Linked DNA regions of Homo sapiens: all the other regions are linked to region 2. The links come from fine-mapping of genetic effects on gene expression. A gene starts in region 2. Each other region holds a variant in brackets. All regions are shown on one strand. Distances are from middle to middle. Region 1 overlaps LOC124901047 (a long non-coding RNA gene). Region 2 holds the start of KCNN2 (potassium calcium-activated channel subfamily N member 2). Region 3 has its middle 44 kb from the start of KCNN2.

The links. PIP is the estimated chance that this variant, and not a neighbour inherited with it, causes the effect. A credible set is the group of variants that fine-mapping cannot tell apart.
Region 1: its variant is the best candidate, but not a certain one, in a credible set for the expression of KCNN2 in lung (TOPMed, PIP 0.55).
Region 3: its variant is the best candidate, but not a certain one, in a credible set for the expression of KCNN2 in lung (TOPMed, PIP 0.59).

The regions. Positions count from the first base shown.
Region 1 is chr5:113,866,848-113,877,430 of GRCh38, forward strand. All of the region lies in intron 1 of LOC124901047 (a long non-coding RNA gene), which reads left to right. Among named protein-coding and RNA genes, the nearest start is that of YTHDC2, 360 kb to the left of the region's middle. The variant T/C (reference allele first, on the strand shown) is at 5,069.
Region 2 is chr5:114,356,967-114,367,549 of GRCh38, forward strand. KCNN2 (potassium calcium-activated channel subfamily N member 2) reads left to right here and starts at 5,104. Exons shown (of 8, transcript NM_021614.4): 1 at 5,104-6,295; 2 at 6,940-7,035. The coding sequence starts at 5,174. RefSeq lists an enhancer at 3,217-4,133 and a silencer at 4,172-4,381.
Region 3 is chr5:114,312,960-114,323,542 of GRCh38, forward strand. It overlaps a transcript of KCNN2 not described here. Among named protein-coding and RNA genes, the nearest start is that of KCNN2, 44 kb to the right of the region's middle. The variant C/A (reference allele first, on the strand shown) is at 5,941.

The DNA.
Region 1 (10,583 bases), 490 kb before region 2:
GAGGCAGGAGAGCTGCCCATGCTATTTGCTCATAGACATCAAGGGTGCAAAAATCCCCTGCTTTCTTGAAGTTGTGGCACTCTATGTGGGTGGTTAATGTGGGCATGGCAGCCTTTGATGTGGTATCCTTTCAGTCTGATGTGGCTTATACTTGCCACATTTTTCCTCATAGTAATTCTCTTAATTGTGTTTTCCAAGTCCTGACTATGACATTAGCTATCATTTTGTCATCTTAATTTTTCAGATTTTGTCTTTCAGGAAGCTGCTTCTGCAATTTTCTGATGCTACTCCAGAGGGCTGGATGGAGCCCTGATAATGTAGGTGCACAGCCAGGCTCTGCCCACCCTAAGATTTAGTGGGTGGCCTCCTAAATGTAGTGGAGGTGGCTTCTCTGTATCCTCACACTTAGAAATAATTCTTTCAAAAATAAAACCTCTAAAGTTCAAACAAACCAAACTTTAAACAAACTGAGATATTTTTAGAGTGACACTTTTGTAGTAAATTCTTATAATTTTATATTGCATCGGCATCCATTTTGAATATAAGTTGAACTTCATACCAGAAGCAGGGCCTAGTGACTTTTGACAGTTTCCATTTCACCACCTTCTCCCAGTTTCTCCAGATGTCTGTTTTAGACAACTGCCTCCTTGTGACCACCCTCCATGGGACAGCTAGCTGCAACCTACTTGACTCGCTCCACTAACCCCTGTAACGCACATGGACTGTGCAGGTATGCCACAGTGGGCATCTCTGAGACACAGCGAGACCTCACAGAACTTGTGCCTGCTTGCTTTAAACCCACCAATTAGTGCTCCCCTTGGGAAACCTGCTTGGGTAGCACTCTGAACCTCAATAAAGACTTTGGTCCACAGACTTCTCTTACTCTGTCTCTCTGACTGTCCACCCACTGGTGGAGTGTGCATGTCCCAGATAGCTTCCACTTCCTGCTGGCTCTTCTCTCTGGGATCTGTAAGTAATAAACTGCTCCCGCTATTTCATGTGTTTTGTTGAATTGCTTCTTCTGTGTCTCAGCTGACTGACACACCAAACCCAACTTCTTTCCCCGTCAGGGCTCTCCTAGAGGATGGCTATCTTAGTAGAAGTAAACTAGACACAGATCAAATAACAGCCTCAGGGTGTCTGCCAGTATAATCAAGTTTCTTGTAAGAGAAACCTCAAGACCAAATTAGAGAAAAGAAATATAACAACTTTATAAAAACTAAATTCTATGATACAATTATTTATACTTTGTACCATCTTCAAGCCTCAAAAAGATTTTTATTGTTTAAAAAATATTTTATTTTTAAGATATACTTTATTGAGATAATAACTTAATAAGTAAAATATTTAAAAAGATAATTTCTTTGATTCAAAGTCTTTTATATTTTTGTGTCTGTAGTTGAAAAATAAAGCTAATAGGTTTCTTTCTTACCCATAGAATCTCTCTCAGCATTGTATTAATCCAGCCAGGTCTCTGTGCAAAGATGACATAAAAAAGTCATTCCTGTGATGCCCTCCTTCTCTAACTTCTAAAAAGGGAATCCTCCAGTGAATTTTAACTTCTTACTTTTTTTGTATTTCATCCTCTCTTCCCTAGGAAGAGAAATAAAGTGGCTAAGGTCATATTGCAGGTCATATTTCTAACGTTCTGCAATTCTGATGGTTCTTTGAAGAAAAGATCAGAGTGCTACTGAATATATAGCAGGAAGTCCTAACCTTCTTCAGAGGAAGCAAATTTTCAGGTGTGTCTTCAAAGACAAATAGGAGTTCTGTGGAAGATTGAAGAAGAGAGATGTATAGATGTGTAAAGAACAGTCCAGGTAGGGATCAGTATTTGTGAAGACACTTGTAAATCATCATAGAAAACAGTCACACATTCTCTCTGGTGCGGAACCAATTCCCTGGTTCTCAACATACTTTCTTCCTTTGGCCTCCCCCTTTCTTGCTTCCTTTATTCCTCTCTCTTCCTATTCCCATTTCTTCTGCAAGTTCCCGTTTCTCTGCTCACTTCTTAATGGCTGCTTATTCTCAGGGCTTTGTCCTTGGACCTATTTGTTCCTCAATTTAACTTGTAGATTTTGCTCTCCACTCCATGGATTTAATCACTATTTGCTAACTGTATATAGAGAGTTGGTTTTTTTTAGTATATAGATAATAATAATAATTAAATCCATAGTCTTATTTATTTATTTATTTATTTATTTATTTATTTATTTATTTGAGACGGAGTCTCGCTTAGTCGCCCAGGCTGGAGTGCAGTGACGCGATCTTGGCTCACTGTAAGCTCTGCCTCCCGGGTTCATGCCATTCTTCTGCCTCAGCCTCCTGAGTAGCTGGGACTACAGGCACCTGCCACCACGCCTGGCTAATTTTTTTTGTATTTTTAGTAGAGACGGGGTTTCACCATGTTAGCCAGGATGGTCTCGATCTCCTGACCTTGTGATCCACCCATCTCAGCCTCCCAGAGTGCTGGAATTACAGGCGTGAGCCACCACACCCAGCCAAATCCATAGTCTTCTAAGAATCATATCAAAGAAGTTTACTTTGTTGTCTGAAATCTTTTTTATCTTTTTGAAATGATATTATTGTAAATTTGTACACTGTGGTATTTTACCCATTTATTTACTTTTTCAACAAATATTTTTTGAGTGCTAGATGTCCAACACTGTGGTAGGTGCCAAGGATATAATAGTACAAGGGGACAGGAGGTTGAATAGCAAAGGGCATCTGACAGGCAATTAGTCAAGATGAACTAAATTGTGTTCTGGTGAAAAGTACAAATCCCGAAGTTTCAGTGACTTAATGCAACAAGGGTTGATTTCTCATTCACGCTATAGTCTTACAACTCCACCATCATAATCATAAAATCATTTGCTTTCAGCCACAAGAACAAGAGAGAGACCATGGAGAATTCCCACCTAGTTGTCACTACTTCAGATAAGGGTGATGTCATCGCTGCCAGGCAGCAGAGCACAGCTAGTCACAAAGCCCTATCCTTCAGCAAGAGAGGCTGGAAAAATGTGGAGGAGACATGGGGTGGCACCACTGTCTAGCCCACATCCAGTGCAGGGATCAGGAGCTACTTCTCTGAGAAAGAGGTATTTATTTTAAGCTAAGACATTAAGTAAGAGTGAGGCTAGCTGACTAAGGAACATGTGGAAAAGCATTTCAGGCAGAGGGAACTGCATGGGGAGACTGTGAGGGGAGAGAGACTGGCACATTTGAGGGATTGCAAGATGACCAGTGTGGCTTAATGGGTGGGGAAAACTCAGGTTAGAATATGGGCAGAAGCCAGATTGTTCAGGACCAGGTCAGGCAGGGAATGTTAAAGATTTTTGGTTGTCTATACTAAATGTATAGAAATTCACTTAGAAATTTTAAGCAAGGGCATGACATTGAGCCCTTTGTGTTTTAAATGATTACTCTGACTATAAAGTGAAGAATTTATTGGAGAAGATATAAATAGGTCTGGGAGACCAGTTAGGAGGTTTTTGGAAATCCAGGAGAGAGGTGATGGCAGCTGGGATAAACAAAGGAACAATGAAAGTGGAGAGAAATAGATGTGTTTGAATAATTTAGGAAATAGAACTAACAGACAAGGGAGGGATTGGATATGGAGGGTGTAGGAATCAGGGTATTGATAACACGATTTTTCCTGGAAGAGCAACTCCTGAGCTAGGAAATAGGAAGCACAACAAGTAGGTTTGTTCAGCGTAGGGGTGAGCAGTGGGGGAGTGAGCAATCATGTATTTAGTCTTAGAGCAAGAACTGGGGTTGCTTGTTCGATATCTAAATGGAGATGTTGATGAGTGAGTTAGATATATTTTATGGAGCTTCAAATAAAAGCCTGGACTGGAATGATACATTGTAACTCCTTGATTTATAGATAGTAATTGAAACCATAGAAGGGACTGGGAGTGCCTCAAGTAGAAGAAAAGACAGCTCACCACAGATCCTGAGAAAAAGAGGGAGAGGTTAGGAAGAGTTGGAGAAGTGAGCAAAAGATTGGGAGAAATAACTAGAGAGGGAAAAGGAAAACCCAAAGAGTGTAAGGTCATGCTGGAGAAGGGTCTTCCCTTATGCTTCGAATAAAGATTTTTTTGGTGAAGTTTGATGAGGCATCAAGTAAGATGAGGGCAGAAAATGTCATTAGATCAGGCCCATGAAGGTTTTCAATGACCTGAACAGAACAAGAGTAGCTTTGGTAGACAACTCTGTTATCGACTTTGAAGTTAACTTTCAGCTGTGTTTGGTTTAATTGCTCTGAGTAACTTCTCTAACAACTGGATTTTGTTAAAAAAAAAAAAACAAACTAAATGTTTTAAAAAGTTTTCTATAGAGCAGAACACTGACTAACAGAATGGAAATTTAACTGTTTCAGCACACAGCAGACTGGTACAACTGATATAGGTTTTCAAAGTTGAATTTGGTGAACAACATTTTTTTTTAAAGTTTAAAGATCAGTATGCCATTGGAACAACTGTGATATAAAAGTGGAACTGTGTATCTTCTTAGTATGTTTTCATTGGTGCTAAACAATTATTTCCAGTTTGCTTTTTATTCAAAATTAGAAAGTACAGAAAACCAGAGAGGCTAGAGCTATAGAAATTATCCAGGGGATGATTTAGAGAAATGGTTCTGTGAGGGAAAATTAATGATGCTGTCTAGCCTGTGAGAGAAAATGAGAAGGAGCACCCCATAATCTTTTAGTCAGGACTATAAGGAGGTACAGAGATAATGCTGACTAGTGGCTCTTCATATCATGGAGGGCCAAAGGGAAAGAATTGGGCTAGAATTTCTGTAAGAGATCAATGATTTGATAATAAGAGCCTTTTGAATGTAAATGATTAAAAAGCTGTAGAAGGTTATGAAGAGAAGTGGGAGATTTCCTATCTTACAACATACGTAGCAAAAGAGTTGGCAGTCATTTGGGATTCTGTCATTCTTAATGGGGTTTTCTGGGAATGGGAAGCCATCACACATCTTTCAGGGACCTCGCTGATAAGAGAAATAAGCCAGTGAGGCCCCTGAAAAGGGCAGCTGAGTGTTCCCCACCTTTTCCTCATAG[T/C]ATTCCTCAGCCATGCCCTTATGATGTTTAAAGAACCAGAAGGACTTCCTGGTCTACTCTAAAACCTTTGGGAGGTCTGGGATTTGGCTGCTTTTGAGGCTTTACTTGTGTCCTATTTAGTGAAGTTAGTTAAAGATACACTGAATTGTATTAGGACCTTATCTTAAAAACCAACATATTTCCTTCTGTAAGAACCTCCCTAGTATACCCTGCTAATATACCTACCCTCCTTAATATCTTCAACTTTTCAAGCACTTTTGAGTGACCACTTCCCTTTACTATGCAAATAACAGTAATTTGAGCCTGCAGCTCATGTAAGCCTGGGAAATCTACTCCTGTTTCAATGATTTCTGAAGATCCCAGGGAATGCTCACATGTCTTCGTGCTTTGCTGGTTGCACCTCCCTTTGAACGACTGTGCTGAATGGGGCTCCGCTTGCCGTTTCTTTGGCTGCCTCCAGAAACCACCTCCATGTTATTGAGCTGCTTCCCTGCTGCCCTTCATGCTATGTATGGATACAGACCTTCCTTTAAATGTTACCCACTCAATGGACACAAAGTATTTTAAGCAGACTTTAGTAAGTTTTAGTGCAGCAAGGAGGAGAGGGACAGGTGACTTACACTGCAGAAAAAGAAAACAAACCTGGTTATAAACATTGCTTCTGAAGTCTATACATGCACAACATATGGGCCTCCTACTGACTCTTTCCTTCTTGACTCTGGCCTGCCACCATATTGCTGGAGGTCATTGATCTTCCCAGAATCCCCTTTCTCATTTCCACTTTCCTGAGTCAGGGCCCCAACCCTTTTCCTCACCACTTTTATGAGAACCAATAAACTTTTCACATTATTTTTGCAGAGTAATTTAAGTTTAGGCACTTGTTGACTTGACTCAATGCATAGCATGTGCTTTCTTTGCACAATGGCAAACAATTTTCTTTGCAAAGTTGAAGCACATTCAAGTTCTTTGTTTCGTATTTTTCATCAATAGGGCTCTGGCCTTTAAAATGACCTTATAATTTTGAGATGATAAGTCATTCTTACAGGCTTCTAAGGTCCCAAACAAAATTATTAAGCATATGCATGGTCAAAGTACTTGAACTTTCCTTTCCCAGAGTCTGTTGCTGCCAATTTCAGATAGTGGAAAATTTGTCTCTAAGAAAATATATGTGTGTGTGTGAACTCCCAGGGTTTAAATAAAGTCTATCCCCTTTACATTGATATTCTCAATATTGCATAATTTACCTTATAGTGGTACTTAGCAGAGGAGAATATGCAGACAGAAGCAAATTCATAGAAAGAATTTCTAGCAGAACTTGGGGAGAGGTTAAAGGGAGTGAACTTCACTCCCAATCTGCAACATCCATCAATCCTGAAGTCCTGTTAATGTTGCCTCTTTAATGTCTATCTGTTCTGCAGTTACCTGCTTAAAGTCAGTATGTGCTAGTTTTGTATTCCTAGCTCCTAACAAAGACTGATAAATAGAAGGTACTCCTCCAAAGGTTGTTGCATGACTGCATGGATGGAGGAATAAATGAGAAGGAACTAGTGATGCTGGAAATGTGAAGGTAGAATCCTAGGCAGGCAGGACCAGAGGAGTTGCCTTTTCCTCAGCAGAAAGCTGGAAGAGAGAAAGGAAAGTAAGTGTAGGGTCAAAAGAACATGATAAGATTGAAAAAGGTAAAATACAAAGCCTGTAATAGATTTTTACAGATCAGTTAGGCAGAGAAGGGGAAGTGTGACTTAAGTTGCTGTGTAAAGATAGAAGGTTTTTATTTATTTACAAGCTAATTTGAGCCATTGGCAGGGTGAGGGAATAAATAATAATCAGCACCATTGTTTATTAGACACTCACTTGTACCTAATTTAATACTAAGTGTGTCATGACCATGTTATTTAGTTTTTATATCAACTCTATATAGGTAGATTTATTTATCTTCATTTTATAATCAGAGAAATTGAGTCTTGGAGAAATTAATTAACTTGCCCAGGATTGCATGTAAAGTAAGGAGTCGGGATTTGAACTCAGATCTGTCTGACTCTAGATACTGACTCTTAGCCTCTGTGCTACTGTTGCATATAAATACTGATAATACATTGTATCTCCTTCATCTTAGTGTGGCTTGATTCTCATGTTTAGAAGGAGGAAACAGCAGGAAGGCAGGAGTGTAAGTTTAAAGAAAAATAAAAAATGCAGGAAGGACGGACTCTAGGCAGCCTCCACTTACTTCACAACTTTACCTAGAGTTGCTTTAATTATTCTGAGGAATAAGCTAAGTTTTAAAATGCTAACTGACACTAGGTAAACATTTAATTTTCTCCCAAATCTGTTTTGTAGTTGAAGGAGCTCTGGCTCTGAGAACAAACTAGTACTTTGTATAGATTTACAAAGCTAATACCTTAAAACTGGAGTCAACCCCAGACCTGTCAATCTCAAGACCATACTCTTGCCATAACTCCATAGCAACCCTTTGTGCAATAGCAAGCATTCATCATAGGTAGATTAATAATATTTTATAGTAAAAGAATCACATAGAGCTCAGGTAACTCAAATACTTCACTTGGTATTAAGAAAATGGGGTTTTAAAGAAGCAAATTGATGTGGCAGTGATCATACCAGTGGTCAGTGAAAACACTGCTTTTTGCTCAGCTTTCCTGGCTTTCATAATCTTTTTGCCACTAGAATTAACTGTCTTTTTAAATCTTAGATGCATTCTTTGACCAAGGTTAGATCCATATGTGTATACCAACAGAGCATGAGGGTGAGTCTGCTGTTTTCTTTGGGCAGCTCTCTTTTAGGGAAAGCGCTTCACAAATGTCTGTGCCTCGGGCTCTGATCCATTTTCTTTGGTGGTGCCCAGGTATGTAGAATTAGATATTAGTACTTGCTTGTTGGCTCTCTGTTAAAGCTTTTGAATGAAGTCTGCCTGTTAATTGTTTAAAAATGGGGCTAATTATTCTTCTTTCTGCAGCCACAGACTTCACAATGATGGTGTAATTGCATTCAAATATTGGACATGCACTATGTACTAAATATTTGAATTCACCGAAGCAAAGTGTGTGTCCCTGGGATAACGAATATCTTCTGAATTGTAAAATTCAGGGGTTTTATAAAGCAAAAGGAACACTGATGAAATTAAACTAACTTGGGAACAATAGGCTGCTTTTCAAGGTTAGTCTTCTGTGTCTAAATTATATATGTATTATTGTTCCTCACTTGCATGACCAATTATAGGGAAGTTCCTTATTGTGAGATGCGATAATTTTATATAATTGCAGCAGCTTCAGCAGTTTTGAAGGAGGTTTCCCTGGCAAAACATAGTCTCAGGGAAAACAAATTATGTTGATTTACTAGCAATTCTGCAAATGGGTTGTCTGGGGGAATCGGGGGAGTCTTTTTATGAAGCACAAAGAAACTGCTCACTATTTGACATTTTAAATTGCTTGCTCAGAATATGCAAAACTGCAGACATCTAATTGCATGTTGTCTCCTCTGAGGAGCCACTATTTTTATTTGGAGACTGTGTGATGATTAAGGGGGAGAAATGATATTCATTTTCCCAAGTCACAGAGGTCAGGGCAGGGGCTATAACATCCAGGAAAAAGCAAAGCACAGCAAATCGGTAGTGAATTCCTATTTAAAACTGCTCTAGTAGCTCCACGTTTTACTGAAATTAGATTATTTGAATGTTGTCACCACATGAGCAGCATGAGAAGGGAAGGCACTTGCCAACCTAAAAATGACAATGGCATTTCTCAGATGGCCAGTTGTGATGAGTCCCTGAAGCAGACCAGGGAGCTGCTCTCTTGACAAGTCACCTACATACTGTAGATGCCCACAGGAAGATGCAGAATGGCTAGGTCTTGTGGCTCCCAAGCATAAGAATGCTGTTTGTGCTAAAAATAAAAACGGAGGTATAAGGATGCGGGGCCATTGCGCGCGCTCTCTCTCTCTCTAACTAAATCTTTGAGAAAACTTGACTTTCTTCTGGGAATTTCTGAGCTGGGATTGTGGAGTACTTGTCATAAATTTGTGCTTTCTTTATTTCTTTAAACATAAACATGGCCAGGCTTTTTTTTTCTTTCTCTTTGCACTAAATGTTTTAAACTCTTTATGTGTGTCACTTATGTGGAACTTATGATACTTGCTGTTTTATCATACTTTTGTTTTATGCCAGGTTGCCAGGTGAGAAAATTATAGAAAGTAGAGTCATCATTTGAAATATCTTACATCTCCTGTCTTGCCTAGCATGGTGGTGCTTTTCATGCAGAAAGTTCGCAATAAACGTTGCTAAATGAATAAACAGATACATCTTGGACAACCTCTGGACTTTTTCTCCCCAGATGTTTCCCAGTGCCTATAGCATGTGTCGGGGGCATAAGCTCACAATTTCACTTCCTCCTAGATGTATTGGGTGATGGGCATGGAGACCTCTGCTTTGTTCCTTCCATCTCCTTACTGGTTTCTTCTCCCAGGACTTACAAAGTGAAGAGAAATGTCAAGGCTGTCTTCCAGACCTGGGGCTGTGTGCACAAAATTTTCTTATTTTTAAGTTCAGAAACTCAGTAAGAATTTTTTTTTTTCACTGCTCAGACAGTATAAACTATGTGTATTATATCTTTGGTGAGTTTTCTTAATGGGAAATGTAACTGCCCTCAGTTTCAAAGAATTAGGCCCCTTTTTCATGACCCTTTATTTATTTATTTTTTTCAGAAGAGTCTTGCTAGAACAATGAACTGTCTTTAGTTTTTCTGGAACTAATATTACTCTTTACCCCTAAAATTTTAAATATAGTGTGGCCATCATTGTTTTTGGCAATCTCTCCATGAGATAGATTTAAGGCTAATATTCAGAATGCCAATTTTCATTCATTTTTATTCTTAAGAAAATAGTCTTATATTTATAAATGAATCTTGTAATGAAATCACAACACTCTCAAATTCTACATGCAATCTGTGTGTACTCCTATTTGAGATCAGAGTCATTTTTACTTTAAATTCTAAAACAGAATTTTACTAAGTTTATGATAGTGCAGAAAGATCTCAATAAACATTGCTAAATGAATAAATGGATGTATTTATTGATTTCGATGTAGGAATAACTTGAACAATAGGCTATAGAGGTAGAGCTGAAGATCAGGCTGGGTAAACCTGCCACCAAAAAGAGGGAAATGAAGATAAAAGCTTAGGAAAGAAGAGAACTGAGGACTGAATAGAGAACAGGAGGTAGGATGATTATTTGTGGTAACTGATTCAGGCTGTGTGCTTAGGACAAATCAGGAATTTGCAGCAAGCGTAGGGTGTGTGATCTGAGAAAGGGGAGAAATTAGTTTGCCTATGTTAGATAACTCCTGAAGCATGCAGTTCCAATGGAACCTGGCATCCTGTCAGGTACATGGGTGTTAAAAATGGTCCAGAGTCATTGAAACTCTTCATTTTCCAAACATAAGCAACGGCTGAACACACTCTATTCTAATAATTTTATAAACTAAAGCACATAGAACTCCCCGAAAATA
Region 2 (10,583 bases):
CGGTGTCTCATCACAACCTCTGCGTTTGGCACCACCAAATATTGTAGTTGACTCACCCAGGCAAAGAAAAAAATAATTCTCAGAAAAACATTTACTTTGTAGGTCAAAATTTTCCTTCAGACCACCCCAATATGGGAAACAGATGCCAGGGACCCCTGGTCTGATTGAATTTGGAAATATACCAAAAACACCCAAAGTCAAGAGAACCCTGCTTTTTAAGGTACAACAAAAAGACATAGCATAGACAATACTATAAAGAAGAGAATTATGAACAATGGCATAATAGAAATTTGAATAAAATAAGGGATTGGAGTGCAAACAACATGAAATTTTTTTTTTTTTTTAATTATACTTTAACTTTTAGGGTACATGTGCACATTGTGCAGCTTAGTTACATATGTATACATGTGCCATGCTGGTGCGCTGCACCCACTAACTCGTCATCTAGCATTAGGTATATCTCCCGATGCTATCCCTCCCCCCTCCCCCCACCCCACAACAGTCCCCAGAGTGTGATATTCCCCTTCCTGTGTCCATGTGATCTCATTGTTCAGTTCCCACCTATGAGTGAGAATATGCGGTGTTTGGTTTTTTGTTCTTGCGATAGTTTACTGAGAATGATGATTTCCAATTTCATCCATGTCCCTACAAAGGACATGAACTCATCATTTTTTATGGCTGCATAGTATTCCATGGTGTATATGTGCCACATTTTCTTAATCCAGTCTATCATTGTTGGACATTTGGGTTGGTTCCAAGTCTTTGCTATTGTGAATAATGCCGCAATAAACATACGTGTGCATGTGTCTTTATAGCAGCATGATTTATAGTCCTTTGGGTATATACCCAGTAATGGGGTGGCTGGGTCAAATGGTGTTTCCAGTTCTAGATCCCTGAGGAATCGCCACACTGACTTCCACAATGGTTGAACTAGTTTACAGTCCCACCAACAGTGTAAAAGTGTTCCTATTTCTCCACATCCTCTCCAGCACCTGTTGTTTCCTGACTTTTTAATGATCACCATTCTAACTGGTGTGAGATGGTATCTCATTGTGGTTTTGATTTGCATTTCTCTGATGGCCAGTGATGATGAGCATTTTTTCATGTGTTTTTTGGCTGCATAAATGTCTTCCTTTATGCAGCCAAAAAACACATGACTAAAGAGCTTCTGCACAGCAAAAGAAACTACCATCAGAGTGAACAGGCAACCTACGAAATGGGAGAAAATTTTCGCAACCTACTCATCTGACAAAGGGCTAATATCCAGAATCTACAATGAACTCAAACAAATTTACAAGAAAAAAACAAACAACCCCATCAAAAAGTGGGCGAAGGAGATGAAGTTTTTTTCCCAAGCTCCTGTGGTCTGAAAAAAGACATGCTTCTAAGAAAATGTGTTTGTGTGTGGGATGGGTGTTTGTGTGCGTGTTCACAAGCTTGAAATTCAACAAACATGGGAAAGCAATTGTTGTAGGCCATAAGAAAAAAATAGGCAATTTTTATTAAAAAGTGATGCTGGAAATAGATTTAATTGATTAGATTTGAAATACATTTTGTGGCTGAGTATGACCTCTGGTGTTAATCTAGGGAAATTCTCTCACTTATATGCTTTAATGGAACAAAAAGAAGGAAATTTAATTTTCTGAAAGCTTATCACTGGAAGTCATAGCCCTTGATCTGCGTCTTTTTTTTTCCCCCAATGTTTCTTCATTTCCTTCCTCTCTCCTTCTCTCTGTACTCACAAATATAAATAAGTATCTACTATGTGCAAACTACTATCCACGTGGAAGAATATTGCCTTTGTTGCTTCATTTAACTTTACATGTTACATGTATCTCTACAGTCCTGTGTAGAAAAAAAAGAAATCATGTTATGCACATTTTAAATGTCTACATATAAACTTAAAATTTGTTGACTTTATTAAAAGAGGAATGATGAAAATAAGAACTTCTTAAATGTGCCTGTTATAACCTAATAGTGTAAAATGCCTTAAATAATGAAGTTATGATTCAGACTAAAAATGAAACAAAATTATCTTGTGTTTTTTCATCATCATAGTAATACAGGTTTACCACACTCTCAATATACAGATATTTATTAGCAAGACGGCTGAGTGTGTGTAATCAGTTGATTTCTTAACAGAAAGCCGATAAATGTCTGATTGATTTGCTCTCTGTCCAATCACAGTGAGTTTTACATTATTAAATTATTTTATGAGCTTTTTCAAAATAGTGCTAGCCGGAAGTAGTATTAGTCTGAGTTTTGGTGTTCCGACAGTCCCTCATGTTGTGAATCAAATTTCCATTTTCTTCTGAATTTTGTGCATTCTATCCTCCTGTGTACCCCCTTGAAGAGAAGTGAGAACTCCATGCAACATTGCCATAAATCTCAGTAGGCAATTTCTGAGATGATTATTTCTACATGATTTCTACATGATTAATAGCACTGCAACTAATCCCATATTACAGCATAGAGATATACATGGCAAAAGATACATTTTTGCCTATTATTTTGGTTTTGGAGCCTCTGTTGAAGCCGTGAATTTGCTATTTGACAAAGTCAGTTTGACACAAGGGATGCAGCCATTATTTTTCTTATGACAGTTTAGTAACTGTAGAACCTTATATCTAATTTAATGCTGGCAACAACTATTATGATATTTCAGGGGTGGAGGCTATGTAATCTTTTATCTAAATTTATGAACGGCTAATAAAAATATTTATTAATTTACCATAATGTTCCTTTGAAGTATTTAGATTTGTAAGGATGAATCAAACATTTTCACTCAATCGCTACGTATAGCAACTGGAAAGCTACATAATTTGTTGAAAAGCGTCCTAATACATGTTTGATGGATTTTCCGCATGAGTTGAATTTCTTTTTCAGACCAGGTTAGTAACTTTTCATAGGGAAACTTTCATTTTAATTCAAATTACTTCGCAGGATTGTTTTGAATACTCATGCTTTCCACACAATTTATGCAGTATCTACTCAGCTGCCCCGAAGACTCAATTAGCTTCGTGATTCTAAAGAAGTTTTATTGAATTGCTATTTTGAAGATACAGAACAAAAATAGTAATAGATGATAAAAACAAAATGCTGTCTCTGATTGTTAGCCACTAAATTATATTCTTGACCAAGACCATTGAGAAATTCAATTCCGGACAGTATTAATTAGCTCAAGTCCAGGGCTACGGGACTAAAAGCAGCTGTGCACCCCCCACCCCTTTTTTTCTGCTGAATGTTTATTTGCACACACAAAAAATTAAAATTAACATGTGTCCAAAGAACATCATAAAATGAATTATTCATTCCATGGCATTGAAAGCGCACACACGCACACTCTGAAAAGCAGATACCAGGTAAGCAACTTTAGGGCAGCTGCCGAGTAGAATATCAAGAAATTGGATCCAGCTGAGAATTCCAATTACCTAATGACCTAATGAGGGTGATCCGCTTTCACTCTAATTGCTAGGTCTAACTCGTTGTAATAGTCTTTATCATGAAAAGCAGGCTTTAAAATAATTTAAAATGGAAACAAATATTCAACGGGCCAATTTCTTTCACCTTCTTTAGGGGGAGACGGGAATTTGAATTCACAAAGAAATGCAAATGTAAAGACTTAAGATGGAGCAGAAACAAAGAACATAAGGATCACCTAGTGCATTGTGTTGGTACATCTCTTAGAAGAAGACAGCACAGGGAATTTGTGAGACACCAAATGCAATTTTTGTTAGTTTATTAGAGAGTAAATAAATAAATAATGATACCGAACTCCAACAAAACTCCAGCACTGTCCGTGGGCAGCGACTATTCAGCCCAAGCTATCATTCTTAATTTCCCTGCCAGGCTGCGACTACCGGGGTGAATCAGCCCGCGCCAGGCCCCTTTCCCACCCGCCGCTGCAGTTAGGACTTGGCAAAGATGCTCGATATTTGCGTATTTGTGACCGGTCTTTGCTTTGTGTCTGCGCTGCAGGTGAGGAGGAGGAAGAGAAGCAGAAGAGCAGCTGGAGGCCGGCGGTGGCTGAGCAGCCCCCACACCTTTGAGCGAGCCGCCTGCCTCTCCACCGGCAAGGAAGCCCTGGGACCTCCGGATTCGGGCTGCCGGAGGGCCTGAGCGCCAGAGCCCAGGACCCGGCGGCCGGGGGCGCCATCCCCTCATGTTCTGGAGAAGGCGCAAATGTGAGCTGGCGGTAGCGGGGAAAGCCCTCCGCCCCCGCCAGGGGGGACCCGGGAAGCCCGGCCGGCTCTGTCGGCAGACTGCGGGGATCCCCTCCTCCGGCCCCGCCCCCACCCACCCCCGGCCGGGGTGCCGAGGCGGTTAACCCTACCCGCGCCGCAGCGCACTTGGGCTAGAGCGCCGCGCACCCAATCCAGATTCCAGAGCCTGCCGGCTGGGAAAGATCCGGTCTCGGGGTCGGCTATGATCCCGCAGCGGCCAAGGCAGGGCTCAGGCCCCGGGATTCTCCCCACACGCTGCTGCACTGGCGCAGCCGGTCGCCAAACTTTTTCTCCCCAAAGCCAGTGCCCCCGCAGTTACTTGGCGGGCAGCCGGCAGCCCACTCTCGGCGGGATGATCTGGGAGAAGCGGGCGTGGGACGAGGGGGCTGCTGTTTTGCAGCCCTGCGAGGCGTGCAGTCGGAGAAGTGGTCGGGGTTCCACACCGTCCCTGAGCCTGCCCCCGGCCAAGGTGGCCCGACGTGCTGCAGTGGCTGGCGCAGGTGATCCGGGCAGCGCGTCCGGCACTAGTCAAGGGGGCAGCGGCACGGGAGGGAGGGGCGCCTTTCTCTTTTCTCCTCCCCCTGCAGCCCAGCTGCACTGCGTGGGGGCTCTCCATCTCCACGCAATCAGCAGGCGGAATCCCTGCCCTGGAGCGCCCTGGCTCTGGACTGCACCCCCCTAGGGTTTGTCCTGCAGATTCCCCTCCCCATCTTTCTCTGCCACACACGCTTCCCTAAGCCGCGCGCGCCGCAAACTCAGTCTCGGTCCCCGCAGGTGATGTCATGCCCATTGTTTTGGTGCGCCCAACCAATCGGACTCGCCGCCTGGATTCTACCGGAGCCGGCATGGGCCCTTCCTCGCACCAGCAGCAGGAGTCCCCGCTCCCGACCATAACGCATTGCGCAGGGTGCACCACCGCTTGGTCTCCCTGCAGCTTTAACAGCCCTGACATGGAAACCCCATTGCAGTTCCAGCGCGGCTTCTTCCCAGAGCAGCCGCCGCCGCCGCCGCGCTCCTCACACCTGCATTGCCAGCAGCAGCAACAGAGCCAGGACAAGCCGTGCCCGCCCTTCGCGCCCCTCCCGCACCCTCACCACCACCCGCACCTCGCGCACCAGCAGCCGGCCAGCGGCGGCAGCAGCCCATGCCTCCGGTGCAACAGCTGCGCCTCCTCCGGTGCCCCGGCGGCGGGGGCGGGAGATAACCTGTCCCTGCTGCTCCGCACCTCCTCGCCCGGCGGCGCCTTCCGGACCCGCACCTCCTCGCCGCTGTCGGGCTCGTCCTGCTGCTGCTGCTGCTGCTCGTCGCGCCGGGGCAGCCAGCTCAATGTGAGCGAGCTGACGCCGTCCAGCCATGCCAGTGCGCTCCGGCAGCAGTACGCGCAGCAGTCCGCGCAGCAGTCGGCGTCCGCCTCCCAGTACCACCAGTGCCACAGCCTGCAGCCCGCCGCCAGCCCCACGGGCAGCCTCGGCAGTCTGGGCTCCGGGCCCCCGCTCTCGCACCACCACCACCACCCGCACCCGGCGCACCACCAGCACCACCAGCCCCAGGCGCGCCGCGAGAGCAACCCCTTCACCGAAATAGCCATGAGCAGCTGCAGGTACAACGGGGGCGTCATGCGGCCGCTCAGCAACTTGAGCGCGTCCCGCCGGAACCTGCACGAGATGGACTCAGAGGCGCAGCCCCTGCAGCCCCCCGCGTCTGTCGGAGGAGGTGGCGGCGCGTCCTCCCCGTCTGCAGCCGCTGCCGCCGCCGCCGCTGTTTCGTCCTCAGCCCCCGAGATCGTGGTGTCTAAGCCCGAGCACAACAACTCCAACAACCTGGCGCTCTATGGAACCGGCGGCGGAGGCAGCACTGGAGGAGGCGGCGGCGGTGGCGGGAGCGGGCACGGCAGCAGCAGTGGCACCAAGTCCAGCAAAAAGAAAAACCAGAACATCGGCTACAAGCTGGGCCACCGGCGCGCCCTGTTCGAAAAGCGCAAGCGGCTCAGCGACTACGCGCTCATCTTCGGCATGTTCGGCATCGTGGTCATGGTCATCGAGACCGAGCTGTCGTGGGGCGCCTACGACAAGGTACAGGCTTGAACCCCAGCCCACGCTACCGGAGTCGGGCACTGGGTGGTTGGGATGGGCACTGGCGGGGACCCTTTGCGTGCGGATCCCTAGCCTCTCCGGGACGATCAAGGGAGCCCGCCAGGACAGCGGGCGCGTCTAGGACGCGCATCCGTAGTCAGCTAAACAACTCGGAGATGAACCCTTTCCGCGTGCAGCCAAAGTTCTCGAGGCAGTTAAGAGTGCTCAGCGCATTCGGGCACCTTAAGTAAGTGGTTCTGGAAGTCGGTGGGGAAACCATCTGTAATTCATCCCCTCGTGAATTATGTTTAGAAGGGCCCTTTCAACCCGCTCTCTTGAACTCAGAAGTAAGTTCCTCTGGTTTTGCTAGCCTGGAACAGCGGCGCTCGCTTCGGTCCTCTATGGCGTGGACCCAGCAGCCCAGCCACGCGTCTTCCCAGTCTTTCCAGGTCTACTCTCGTCTCTTTTGGTTTTGAGGCCGAGTGATCTGACAGATCACAGAGCCAAGACAGGTGCACCCCTCTCCCCTTATCTTCCTTCTGTGAGTTCAGGTCCACCTGTGGGGGACTGACTGACTCTGGGGACGTGGAAGGCGGTTAAAAGTGCTTCTTTCTTAAAAGTGCTTCTGTCTGACTGTGTTGCAGGCGTCGCTGTATTCCTTAGCTCTGAAATGCCTTATCAGTCTCTCCACGATCATCCTGCTCGGTCTGATCATCGTGTACCACGCCAGGGAAATACAGGTAACTTAGGTCCTGCTGTTTATGAATGACCCAAAGCCCTACAGTCAGCCTAGAGAAACGCAAGGCAGCAGAGGCTTTTTTCAAGCCATCATGTCCTTGCTTGAGGTTACAGAAGACACATGCTGTATTGTTACCGTTAGCACCTGACCTGTTCTTTCAGGAAGTGGAAAACAACACAAGGCAGGGTAGCATATAAACATGCAGCATTTTCTGAGGTGTATTTGTTGGACCCTTAAGATTTTTACTTCTCTTCAGTAGGTGGATCCTTTTCTCCAGATCAGTCACATTTTGTTCCTTAAGGCCAGTTATGCTCTAGTTTTAATCTGGAATGAACTTGTGTTCTTGTTTGAGACACCTCTTCCTAGTGGGTGCGTCATTATGGGAGATTGTATCTATCTATATAATCTTCTGTAATTTAGCATAGAGAAGAAAACTGGGTGATGAGTTGCCAGCTAATTTATATAAATGAGATATGGGAAAAGATCTAACCCCTTCCTAAATCCCCCACCATTAAAAAAAACTGTTGTAAGTTTAGAATGCAAATTCTGTGTATCCAGTCATGAAGTATTTTTTAAAATGTAATTTAAGAGTTAAGGCCACTGTCCTTGTGAGTTCTTTTTTTTTTTTTTGAAAATATTTCTTTTGTTTAAATGCAGCCAGGAGCTCTATATTTGACTGTTAGTATCCATATCAGAATGCTCTATAAAACTTACGGGTCATCTTGTCAGTTGTTAGCCTACACAGGAATATTAAGGCTTTTAAATTAAAATAAGTATAGAGTTTTCAAAAATTAGATTGGGACTTTTTTCAGCTTAGAATTTGCACTGTGTGGGAGGCGCGGTGGCTCAGTCCTGTGGTCCTGGTGCATGAGAATTTGCACTATGTATTTTCTGAGTTTTTTTTTTTCTTTTTTGAGCAGTTGTTAGACATTTGGTGGTACTTTGAGACCCTTAATTTAGGCCATCTTCCTTTAGACTGCCTCAGATTTAAGCTGCCTTTCAATTTAAAATCTTATATAGGATTTGCCTTTGAAGTAATTTAGTATTAATTTAAATTAAATTAATTTTAAATTAGTAATTAGCAAACACAAAGTAAATATGGAAGAAATCGTTTTTAATGATGCCCAGACAAAATAGTGATGCACATTACTCCAAGTGCAGAGGGAGAAATTACTTCACGTTGCCTTTATACTTGTAAAACTTTGAAAAATGTGTTTTTGAAGGGATGAGGTTGGAGAATGATAATTAGAAAGAGTGAGACTACTCAGAAATAAATTACAAAACTGCACTGACAAAATGAGATGAACACACATTTGAATTTTTTAAAGTTTTAACAGTTTACATAGATTCATCTTTAATTCAATACTAGTGATGGTTGGGCTTTTGAGATTATTTTGAACATTTTAAAGTGATACTAAAATATAACTTAAACATTAGAAATTTATCTTTTCATTTTGACTTGAAGAGTAGACAATTAGAGCTGGAAGGAACAAAATAGGTTTAATGGTCCTTTGACTCAGTTTACAGATAAGGAATCTGAAATCAGCAGAGGTAGCTTGCCGGGCCACACAGCTAGACAGTGCACAGTGAGAACCAGCCCTATCCTAGCTTCCAGGCCATAATGCTTCCTCTGCGAGCTGCTGCTACATGCCAAAAACTGTGAAACGTGAATATTTCTTTTTCTGCAGTTTCCCTCTAAATCCAAAAGTTTGGTATATAAATTCAGTTAAACTTAAAAGATCATTCCAAAATGTTCTTACATATTTTTAAAAATCAAGTTAACTTGAAAAATGTTTTGTTTGGAGGACAGAGTCGTTTTGCTTAATGATTCTGAAATGAGAGATCTTGCTGGGTTTTATTAAATATCAGCTTTGTGTTATTGCCTGTTCCTTGTGAAAATCACACAGCTAAAGAAACATTCATGGGGGAGGACATTTGCTGGTATTAACATCAAAAACAAAGTGTCTTGAAAACATTGACTCTTTAAGAATTATTGGGAGATTTTTTGAAGTAATTCATAGGAGTCTAAGAGCTACCAAATGTTAACTATTTGAAAAAATTGATGTCATATTAGAACGCTTAAAATTTACAGAAGTTTATAAAAAATCATATTTTTATAGATTAATGCTTGAAAGCATTCCACTCATTGGCTAATTTTGAGGACCATTTCAATTATGCATATGCACATATATTTTGATTAGGGTATGTATTGCATGGGTGAGAAAAATGACATGGAATGACTCTCCACGGCAAATATGCACAGTGAACTTCCTTACTGTTGGTCAACATAAACGTTATAGAATGATATATGTTTTAAAATTCGGTTTATTTTATATGATATGTGGTTTCTGTTAAACCCACTATACTTAAGATAATTTCAAAATAGATGCTTGGGTCATGTCATTTAATTAATTTGGATGTAGCTTTTTTACTCGGTGTATTATCTAGAGGGATTTCTCCTTTAAGCTGAAGCTCCAAATTCTTATCTGAGATGCTTTTATTAAAAAATAAATAAATAAAATGGAGAAGGGCCAAACAAATGTGAAGACCCTGAACTGGAAGTCAAGAACCAGAAAAAGGTAAAGATGTTCTAATTTGTCCAGAGAAGAGCGTCAGCAGGGCTGTCAAATACCTTATTCTGAAACACAATGAAACCAACTGCTCAGGCTTATGTATATGCATGGAAAATGATGAATTGCCCCCCGCCCTCCTTTTTTACTTATTGATGTCACTGCTGTGGGTATATATGTTTTTTCATAAAAAGTTTTAAGCTAATGAGCACTTCTCAGCTCACGCTAAATAATTCCAAATATATCAATTAGCTTTGAGTTAAGAAACTAAATGCAAGGTTATGCTGCCATTCATAGCGTGTCCTTGGATGTAGCATATAATCTAAAAGGACAGTTTAGCTTTTTCTTTTTAGCATATCAGTATGATAATCAGATAGTAAAAGCTCGCCAGTGCAGATTTCTGGTGCATGATATGATTTCTCACTGCATTCAGGAAAAGTAAGTGTTATAGCTGACTTTCTGGCTCTATGTCCTCTGGAATTGCTTAATGAAGCAAGAGGAGGCCCTGACATTTTCATGGAGAACCTTGGAAAGCAGATCCGTGTGACCTTTTATAAAATGTTTATACACACTCTGGCAAAACAAGATGGTTCAGGTGAGTCATGGATGGAAGTGCTTGTATTAAAACAGTATGATGGGGAGGCTTTGTAAGATACCAGCTCAGTAGATTTCAGCTTTGGTGTCATTTTTCAGTACCACAGACAGCTCAGTGCACCAGGCAACAATTTTGTTCATTTTACTAATTACTTTTATACCTCACTACCAAAAATGAAATCACATTTTGGTCGTAATACTTATAAAACATCAGATTTAGTAGGAGTAATTTTTAGCTAAGGAGATGTTAGACTTTTTCAGGTGATATTGAACTTGTTTTCTATATCTATCAGTAAAGCTAAAAAATAAATGAACACATAAATTTTAATAAATGCCTATGTATCATGACCTTATGACAAAAGAAAACATAATAGCGATTATTTTT
Region 3 (10,583 bases), 44 kb before region 2:
TCTCATTTGCTGTATTGCTGTTATATTTATAAGCTACCCTGCCTCTCTGGAACCTTGTTTTGATCTCTGTAGAAAAAGGAATATTAGTCTGAGTCTCTGTTATGTTTTCCCTTTGTTTTTGTTCATTTGGCTCCCACTTACATGGCTCCTGTACTGTACATTTAGCTTCATCATTCAGACATTTATTCTGAAAGCCATAGATTTTTCATTTTCCTGTTTCCATCTGCTGGAACATTGAAGATTGTCACCTCCTTCAAATTAAAGTAGACCTTCTCATTCACAAGGGAATCTTCCCAAGGTCTTCAAGAATCCTCAGTTATTAACTTCAAGGAACATTTAATTCCCCCCTCCACACAACAGTTAACTATAGCTGAAAATTTTAATTGAACTCTTCAGACCCTTAATAATTCTAGATGTACAAGCTTAAGTCATTTGTATGTATATAGCTACAGAAACAAAGCCAGCAACTAAAATAAGCTCAATCCTGTATTACATTATATTCTTTTGCTAGTAACTTAAATCAGCAAAACTGCTACAGTGATGATAAAAAGGTGCTGACGTGTGGACAAAGATGAAGATGAAGATGAAATGTACTCACAGAAGCACGAAGTTTGGTCACAGCAGTTCACTCAGGAAGGTGACCCTGAGATCTGGGCCAATCTACAAGATATCCAAGGAGATGTTCTGCCTTCAGCCTCTTTAGACTATAAATCATCTTTTTCCTTCTTGGATAAGCACATTTGCAAAAGGCATCTTCCCTTTAATATATGTCTGTTTCCTCTCTTTAACTCTGAAGACAGGCTTTTGCAGCTAAGTGGTTCTCTCCTATTAATTTCATAGCATGGAATACTTCCTAAAGTTTACTCATGGAAAAGGTCAGTGTAATTCATAAGAATCAGTCTCAAAGTCTCACTGGTTGCTTCATGAAATGTTTTTACGGGCTTTTTGCTTCTTCTAAAATCACTTTTTAGTTAAACAGTGTTTTTTTGTTGTTATTGACAAAACCAAATAACTACTTAATCAACTTCGATGAACGTTTCTTTTTCGGTTTGATCAACAGCTTTGGCACAGGGAGTAGCACTCACTAAAATGATTTCGTGGATCACTTTTCTTGTTTCTACAGTTTTTGTGTAGCTGTTCATGTTGTATAGGACATGAACAAAATGAGGTGGGAGCCGCCTCCTAACAACTTTTCAATAAAATTAATAGACTTTATTTTTAGAGCAATTTTAGGTTACTAAAAAGTTGAGCAGAAAATACACACAGAGTTCCTATATATCACTTCCCCCCTGCATAGTTTCGCTATTAACACCTTGCACTGGTGTGGAACATTTGTTTCAATTGATGAACTGATATTGATGCACTTTTGTTAACTAAAGTCCATATTGTGTGTTAGGGTTCTCTCTTTGTGTTGCACTGTTCTATGGCTTTTAACAAATATGTAATGTCATATATTTACCATTGCAGTGTCATACAGTTTTTCTACCCTAAAAATGTCCCATGTTTTACCTATTCCTCTTTTCCCCACCCTTAAACCCTGGCAACCTCTGATCTTTTTAATCCTCTCTATATTTTTGCCATTTCTCATATAACTTTTCACTTTAAAAATTTTTTACTTTCTGGCTGAGAAGCATGCCTTTTACTTATGTTATTTTCCCTTCATTTTCCTCACTGAACTAGCAGAAGATTTTCTTTTCAGAAAGAATATAAATTTTACCACCAAAAAGTTATTGTACAGGCAGCCAAAGTGTAGAATAATAATAGCCAGCCTGAAGTGTAGTTGTTTAGAGATAACCCAGGCCCACTCACTTGCCAAGTGACTCCTTCTTGCACATTACACTTTGAAGCATAAGATTCAAACTAATTCATTTACAAAACAATAAATTGCTACATGGCATGGACCTTAAGGTGCTCTTGAGGACCCTCTAAACATGAGGGTTAAATCCACAAATGCCAAAATGAACTAAAACCAGTATATTTGAGCATGTCACTGAGGCTAGTTCCTCTAACAAGAACACAGAGGTTTGATTGCTGCCTCCTCATCCACAGCTGAGCTTGATTCATAGGCTACTAAATCAACAGGATCTGATGGTAATGGTGACTCCAACCTAGGTTTCTTATATTGGGAGCAAACAGGAACCAGAATCTGTGCTTCACTGCTCTCAACCATCCTTGTCCCAGGAAGACTTGAGCACCTTCCATTCTTCTGTTCTTCTGTGGCCTTGTATGTTGTGTTGTGGGTTATGTTTCTCATAAACTATTATACCTGGTGAATTCAATTAATTCAAGCAACATTCTCACCAGTTACAGGTACTTAATAGTTTGGGTTCTTTGGATATATCTGGGCAAATATAGGGCTCGTATTTATTTTATAGAGATACCAAAGAGACAAGTGTAATGCCTAGCATGGAACACACTAAAATAAGCAGGTTTAGAGTGTACCACCCATGGAAGGCAGAAACTGTGTGTGTGTGTGTGTGTGTGTGTGTGTGTGTGTGTGTGTGTGTATATATATATAAAACTTCTGTTTTAAAAGTGGACTATTCTTATTATTTGTGATTCATGTTCATATTTTATTACTTATTTTAGTGGTTTTAAAATAAATTTACTATATTTTCACATTTCACAAAATCACTAACATTGATTACATATAGGCATAGTTGTCATCTCCCATTACAGAAAATTCAGAGAACTATCCAGATTTCTTTATTTTGTTGGATTTGTTGGATTTGGGTTAGTCAAATATTTTGCTTATTGAAATGATGTGTTTATTGAAATAGAGTAACCCTGTTAACATACTTTTTAAAGGTTATATCAAGAAATATGTAATAGAAACAGATAAAAAGCACTTTGGAGTTCTCTGGGTCCTTGATAGAGAAGCCTTTCTGTGGAGTGACCTTATTGGAACATTCAAATCCTAGAAGCAGAGTTACCTAAGATATGCTGAGATATAGAGTAGGGAAGCTGTTAGGAATCAGATATTGTCCTGAGGATGGGAGTTGGAAGGAGGCAAAAAAAACCATTTGGTCTGGGCCTTGTATTTACCAAGGAACCTCAAATTGAGAGACTATCTTGAAATAAGTTTACTCATGCAGCAATAAGAAACACAGCACTGAAAGATATTCATCACACACGCATATAGTGTGTGTGTTGTAACCTGTTTTAGCATATCTTCCATCTATCAGGAGCCCCTAAATTAAATTGCCAGGAGCTCTTCTGACTTATAGGAGATGCAGCATGGTACCTTATAAAATTAATAGGTGTGGATTGTTATAAATTTATTTTTAGTAATAATTTTTCCCATGACATCCTGTACAGAGTCCCAAAATATAAGACAAATAGAAGCAAAACTATTCTCTTAGAATCAAAGGTCACTGGAGCCCCCTCCTGGCCCCTGAGCTTGTAGCTAAGATACATCTGAGGAAACTTAAGACTTCAGAAAACAAGATTTTGAAACCGCTAGACTAGCTTAACGCCCTTGATTTACAGATACCAACGTGTAGGCTCAAAGAAGTTAGGTATTGTACTCAACATTGCCCAGCTGGGGAGAAGCAGACCCGCAGATACACAATTGTTGGGTACTTTTCCAGCAGTAGGAATTGCTGAATAATAGTTTCACTTTGATCCTGTGTTATTCTGGATTCAGAAACCCAGAGTTCTCAGGAATAATGGTGTATGAAAAGCTGTTAACATGGTCCCCAAAATAAATGCATATGAAAAATGTAACCCAATCAGTCATATTACAAAACCATATCTCTAAATCATTAATACATATCGCTATCTAGTCCAGCCATGATTTAAAACACGCTCTAATGCAGTTATAATATTAAGGCATATATGTGTGTGTATGGACTCAGGTCTGGCCATCTGTACTCATCTGTGAATATAAGTATAGTCAGTCATACCTGAGTCCACATGCACAAGAAAAAGGCAAGGAAAGGAACAGTCCAGGGTGTTCTTTGAAAACTGCAGTCATTTGGTAAATGATTATGGAATAAATTCCAAACCTTGAGCTCATGCTAAGGCCCTTTGAGATCAGCAAGTGCTTTCCAGAAGGGGCTTTTCAGCAGAGTGACATCCTTGCAGCTTTTTCCCAGATTTTTTTTTCACTTCCTTCAATTCCTTCATCTCTCTTCCTAGTGAACTTCTACTGGCCCTATGCTATTACTATAACTTTCTGCTTTTGAGCCATGGCCCCTTGAGATCTTGGAAAAATAAAAAGAAAATAGAGCCTTGTCTGGACTATAGAGATTTGGAAGCTTATTGATCCAATTTTTTTTTTTTTCAGGAAGCCAGCTTTGTAATGTCTCAAGCCTATCTTAAGGAAATACACTTTTTTACAAAGCTTATATCGTCGGACCTGCAGTGTCTTGTTGGCTTGCCTTTTCTAATTCACTTTTAGTTTAGGCAACCCCTCACAAGGTAACTTTGACTTCAGAGATCCCAGCTTCTTAATCAAAATATCTGAAATCGCTCATGCCAATTATATTATTCATTGTTTAAAGTGTGCAATGATAGCAAAAATCATCCATTCTTTCTTAGACTATACTTGTTGATCTCAAATCTGTTTTATCTGGAAATTAACCTCTTTCTGACTTACATTTTTTGGGGGACTTTCTGATCCCATTCCCTCCTCTGTTTTTGGCTGTAGCTTTCTCATGGTGGTGTTGACCATTCTGAAGAGTCCTGCACCTCCATGAGTTATGTGCTACAGAAAGTCTTAGAGTGAGGAGGAATTTTGGAAGTAGATCCTATGTCACAGGAGAACTCAGGTGACAATTCAGAGCAAAGAGATGAAATACCAGTAGAAATAAAAGTAGCTTACACATTAGCCATTATGCTAAATTCTACAATACTCACATATTTAGCAAAATGGGCATGTTTCTTAGCGACTGCCTGCCGCAGGCAACGTGCCTGCCCATCTTCACGGCAGCACAAGTATGACTATGAAATGAGTTGTAAAGCACTGAAGAGATAAGAGATAAGGGACTGGGAGGGGGCAGGGATAATGAGCAAACGAAAGCAACAGATCAACAGTACACGTGGATGTTTATTATGGTGTACTAGAAGGATAAGTCCATTCACATTCCCTGTGTTTTTTTGTTCCATCTCTGCACTATACTGATTGTCTGCTCTTTACCTGACACTGTCCTACTCATCTCCTGTCTGCTCTTCAGTTGGACTCATTATATTTCTACTTTCTGGAGATGCTTATTAGTTTAGTTTCCTTTTTGCTTAGGCAGGATAATGCTGTGTTTTAAGGAAAAGGCAATACAGTTTAAAGACAGGTTCTCTAAGTGCCCTACCTTCAGATTTTACCCATACTTTATTTTGGAATATTATCAAATCCTTATTACCATTGTCAAATCCTTATTACCACTCATTGTTGTTTGTTTGATGTTCTCATCAAAAATATTTTTTTCCTAGTAAAATCTGAAGGATGGCCACTTACATACGTATTAATAGAGTATATATCTTGTTTAAGGTATGTATTTATAACCCCAGATCTGAAAAAGTTGAAACTTCTGATAATGTATGAACTGTAGCTATATTGTACTATATTATACCACTATATATAATCATACACTTATCATAACAATGATAATATCATAATGTAATTTTGTATTATATAAGAATACATAATTGTATATGATAATTCATATATAATTATTATGTATAATTTATTATACCATATTATTGTTCACAGGCTGGCAGGCACTGTAATTACATTCTTTCTGTAATCTAGATTTACTCAGGGTTCACTGACTAAATTTATACACTGTGGGTATAAATCATAGTTACAGTTTAGATTCTCTTCCTTCATAAATGTTCTTCCATAATCCTTGGATTATGCTTCTGGGAAATCTTGTTTCCTATATAAGCATGTATTATGTTCATATTTTGATTGTGTTCCTTTTAATTATTCTCACTGAACTATTT[C/A]AGTATTACAGCTGAAAAAGACATTGGAGAGTGGTGATTGAACTGTGGGTAAACTGAGGCTCAAAGATACTGAGTGAGACATCAGCCATGCCACTCTGCGATTTTATCATTCATTCTTCTTTCTTCTGTGCCCCCAACGTACACAGACCTCTGTATAAATCCTGAGGCTAAGGGGTATATTCAGGAATATACTCATTCCCACCCAGAGACTGAGTGATTACCAAGAATAGGGGAGACAAAATAGATTAAGGATGGCCTTCATATTCTGAGCGGGAAAGCAGCTAAGTCCACTGGCCCCTTCTTACAGTCAGTTTCCCACCACTGGTCTTATCTGCACACTGAGGTTCTTCCAGCCCTCTCCATTGCTGTGTCTACCCTGAATCTCCCTGCAGGGAGGCTTCTTAAGGGGATGAGCTGTTTCCCTGAAGAGCCCTATGAAGACAGAGAAAGCAGAAGCTACACAGGTATATCTCCGTGCAGTTCATACCCAGCCTTTGGTACTGCCTTTCTGTCATCAGTTGGCTGTTTGCCTCAGCACAGTGGAAATTCATCATAGAAATGAACTCTGTCATATATAGCAATTTAGAATACAGCCTGAAGCTCAGAGTGATAAAGGAGGATGGTTTTATGCCCATAAATATATTTAAAGCTGAGGTGAGTTGCTACTAGAAAATCATTGTTTTATATGTAAATCTCTACTCCTTTGCCATGGTTATTATAAATAAATCTTTATATATTCAGGCAAAAGTCTGACTTAAGTTGCACATCCAGGTTAATCTGAATGTAATATAACACAATTGCTCCTCGCTTCTAAATCAAACACTGTAAGATATAATGCTTGATAATGTTTCATTATTATGCCAAAATGTCAAATTTTTCTCTTTTATTAAGGTAAGTTCAAATCAAAGATGCTTTGTCCCATCACATGCTGTCTCATTCTATAATATTTTTATGTGCTAATTGTGACTCATATAATCTGCTTACAGAAACTCTCCATTTTCTTCCTGGTTGTTAGTCAAAGGAAGGAATCCAGTGTTTCCTTTGATACAGAGCTCTGAGAAAGACTTCTATTTTCAGTTGTCTGTTTCACTTCCTTGAAGCTCATGGGAATTGTGGACAAAATGTTTACCCATTGTTACTCCACCATCTTTTTTTAAAATGGAAATTTTAACACATAAATAGAAACAGATCCCCTTCTTCATATCCCCAAACATGAATGAGTAATCATAAAACAGGAAAAGATTCGAGTACAGTCATATAACTGATGTATTAAATGGGTGAATTTCATAGAGTAAAATCAACATACCCTGTCCTTCCTTGGGTCTGGATGTTATCACAGCCATGTCCCAGACCTTTTTTTGGTTCTACAGGGTATTAGATTAGTGAGGGTTAAAAAAAAATTTTAGTCCAATTTAAAGAAAACATTCATCCAGGCCGGGTGCTGTGCCTCACGCCTGTAATCCCAGCACTTTGGGAGGCTGAGGCGGGCGGATCATGAGGTCAGGAGATCAAGACCATCCTGGCTAACATGGTGAAACACCGTCTCTACTAAAAAATACAAAAAATTAGCCAGGCCTGATGGTGGGTACCTGTAGTCCTAGCTACTCGGGAGGCTGAGGCAGGAGAATGGCGTGAACCCGGGAGGTGGAGCTGGCAGTGAGCCGAGATCGCGCCACTGCACTCCAGCCTGGGTGACACAGCGAGACTCTGTCTCAAAAAAAAAAAAAAAATGTTCATCCAATCCCAAGCCCCTCCCTCTCCACCAGATCTGGCCCAACTAGTGATCCCACAAGCAGGTTTGGAGGGGTAGGGTGCATGGTTTGTTCCTCTCCATCCTTCATGTATCTTCTTCTCCATTCATTCCAGAGAAAGCATAAGGATAGAGATAGTGACAGGTAAAAGAATAGTGTTGTTTGTTTGTTTGTTTTTAGTTGATGCTATCTTTTTCAGTTCTTTTAACTGTCAAGTATCCTGTCATGGAAATCATTGAAATGTTAGCTTTTTCATGAGGTTCAAGAGGAAATACCCCATCCACAGATCTCTGATGTCCCCACATTGCACAGATCTCTGATGGAATGCGAAAGGCTCCAGCTGAGCCCTTAGAATCCTCCCATGCTCCTGCTGTCCCTGTGGGTAGAAAGAAAAGTAGCTTACACATTAGCCATTTCACTCAATTCTACAATTGTTTCCCACGTCTTTGCATAGAGAGGTCCTTTTAGGATGCCTTTGAACCCAGGTACCTTCTTAGCATTGAGTTGATTGCTGGGGAAGTCTTGCTTTTCCAAACCATAGAAGTACAATTTACCCCCATTGTTCTTCTCTCTCCTTACCTTATATTGAGGGTTTGTTCTACTCAATTTTTCACCTTAATCTTCTCTATATAAGGAGTCTTGTGTTCATGTGTGCCCCCAAACTCCAAGACTCCCAAGCTCTGCTAAGAACTCTTTAGTGCCCTTCATCTTCTGGTAGCAGCATGGGGCAGGTCTACATGTTTCTAAAAGCTCAGGAACTGTGGTGCAGGTTGGGGGTTGAAGGATATACAGATCTCCTCATCTGGAATACAACTCTTTTGTCTATAAGTAGCTCTCTTGGAGCCCCCTCACTTGACTTGGTGGCAGGAAATGAAAGCACAGGGAAGGAAGGGTAAATTCCAATGTTCTCAACCATGAAAAATCCTTCATTGTTTCCTCTTTGTAATGGACCTCTTGCCATCTCTTACATCAGTTCTCAGGTATAATGTTCACTGGATTTGTTTTTTTTTTTTGTTGTTGTTTGTTTGTTTGTTTTGAGAGGGGGTCTTTGTTCTGTCCCCCAGGCTGGAGTGCAATGGCATGATCTCAGCTCACTGCATCCTCTGCCTCCTGGGCTCAAGTGATTCTCCTGCCTCAGCCTCCTGAGTAGCTGGGATTACAGGCACGTGCCACCATGCCCGGCTAATTTTTATATTTTTAGTAGAGACGGGGTTTCACCATGTTGGTGACCTCAGGTGATCTGCCTGCCTCGGCCTCCCAAAGTGCTGGGATTATAAGTATGAGTCACCACACCTGGCCGTCACTGGATATTTCACAGAAGCTGTGAAGATGTATTTAGCTTCTGTCTTCAGAATGTGGTAGAATTTATTACCCAGTTTCCTCAGCTTAGAAGTTTTCAATAACATTCTAAGACAACTGGAAGTTCTCTCCAATATTCTGTTACAATAAAACTCACAATTAAGCTGCAAATAACATGAAGACACCAGTTTAAATTTTCCATTTCTTGGGTGTATTTCAAAATTAGTTTATTTGTAGAATCTACTGTAGTAAGTTCCTCAACCAGAAAATGACAGAATGTTGGGGCTTAAAGAGACATTAAAATTCTTCTAGACCAACCATTTCATTTATTGGAAGACAAATAATGTCTAGTAAGTAGAGAAAGAAAGGCTTGTAATTGTTTGTAATGATCTTTGACTAAAAACTAGGATTTTTCTTAATGTATTCTCTGAAGTCTACTTAGAAGGTAAATTTTCAGAACCTGATGGAGACCCAAATCTCATATAGTCATATCTGTTTATTTTATGTGAAAACACTAATTACAGTTCAAAGATTATAAATAAAATATGTTCATTCCAAGTACTCTTTTCATTGAACTTCAGGACACACTGCATGCATACATGTGCACATATGCATACACTCCCCCATACACACACACACACACACACACACACACATACACACTTGATTCCAGGACAGCTGAGTAACAGAGTATTTTAATTGATGCTGCAGCTAAGCATGTGAAAGGTTTGAAAGCGACAGAAACTGATCTCAATGAACCTTTGTGATCTTGTACAGTCTCTCCCTTGTTATTTATTTGAGATGCTAAGTATAACTTTACATTTTGATGGTAATATATTTTAAAACATAAAATGCTTCTTTTTTAACTTTTATTATAGGTTTGAGGGTACATGTAAAGGTGTGTTACATAGGTAAACTCATGTCACAGAAGGTATTGTACAGATTATTTCATCACCCAGGTATTAAGCCCAATACCCAATAGTTATCTTTTCTGCTCCTGTCCTCTTCCCACTCTCCCCGTCAAGTAGACTCCAGTGTCTTTTGTTTCCTTCTTTGTGTTCATAAGTGCTTATCATTTAGCTCCTGCTAATAAGTGAGAGCATGCAGTATTTGGTTTTCTGTTTCTGCATTAGTTTGCTAAAAATAAAATGCCTATGCTTCTTTTAAGTGAATCCATGCTCCTCCTGGAAAAAGAGGAACCCCGGTTTACATTACAGGTACCTAATTTCAAAGCTACCATAAACAGTAAAGCTCCTCAGTAGGAAACTGCAAAGCACAGTGGTTAAGAGCATCGTCTCTGGAGTCACATTTCCGGAGTTTAAACCTGTGTTAGTTACTACCCAGCTGTGAAACTTCAATAAAGTTGCTTGATGTCTCTGTGCCAGTGTTTTCTCATCTATAAATTAGAAATAATAAGAGTGTACTCATTTCATTTTGGTACCATCATAAGCACCAAATACTGCACTTATCATGAGTTGACATTTCAAGTTCAGCCACTTAAGCTCTTAAATCTTTAAAGATAATAAAACTAAAAAAGTAATGAGAAAAATGTTTATTTTTTCATGTACAGTATAAATTGCATTAATTTAATAA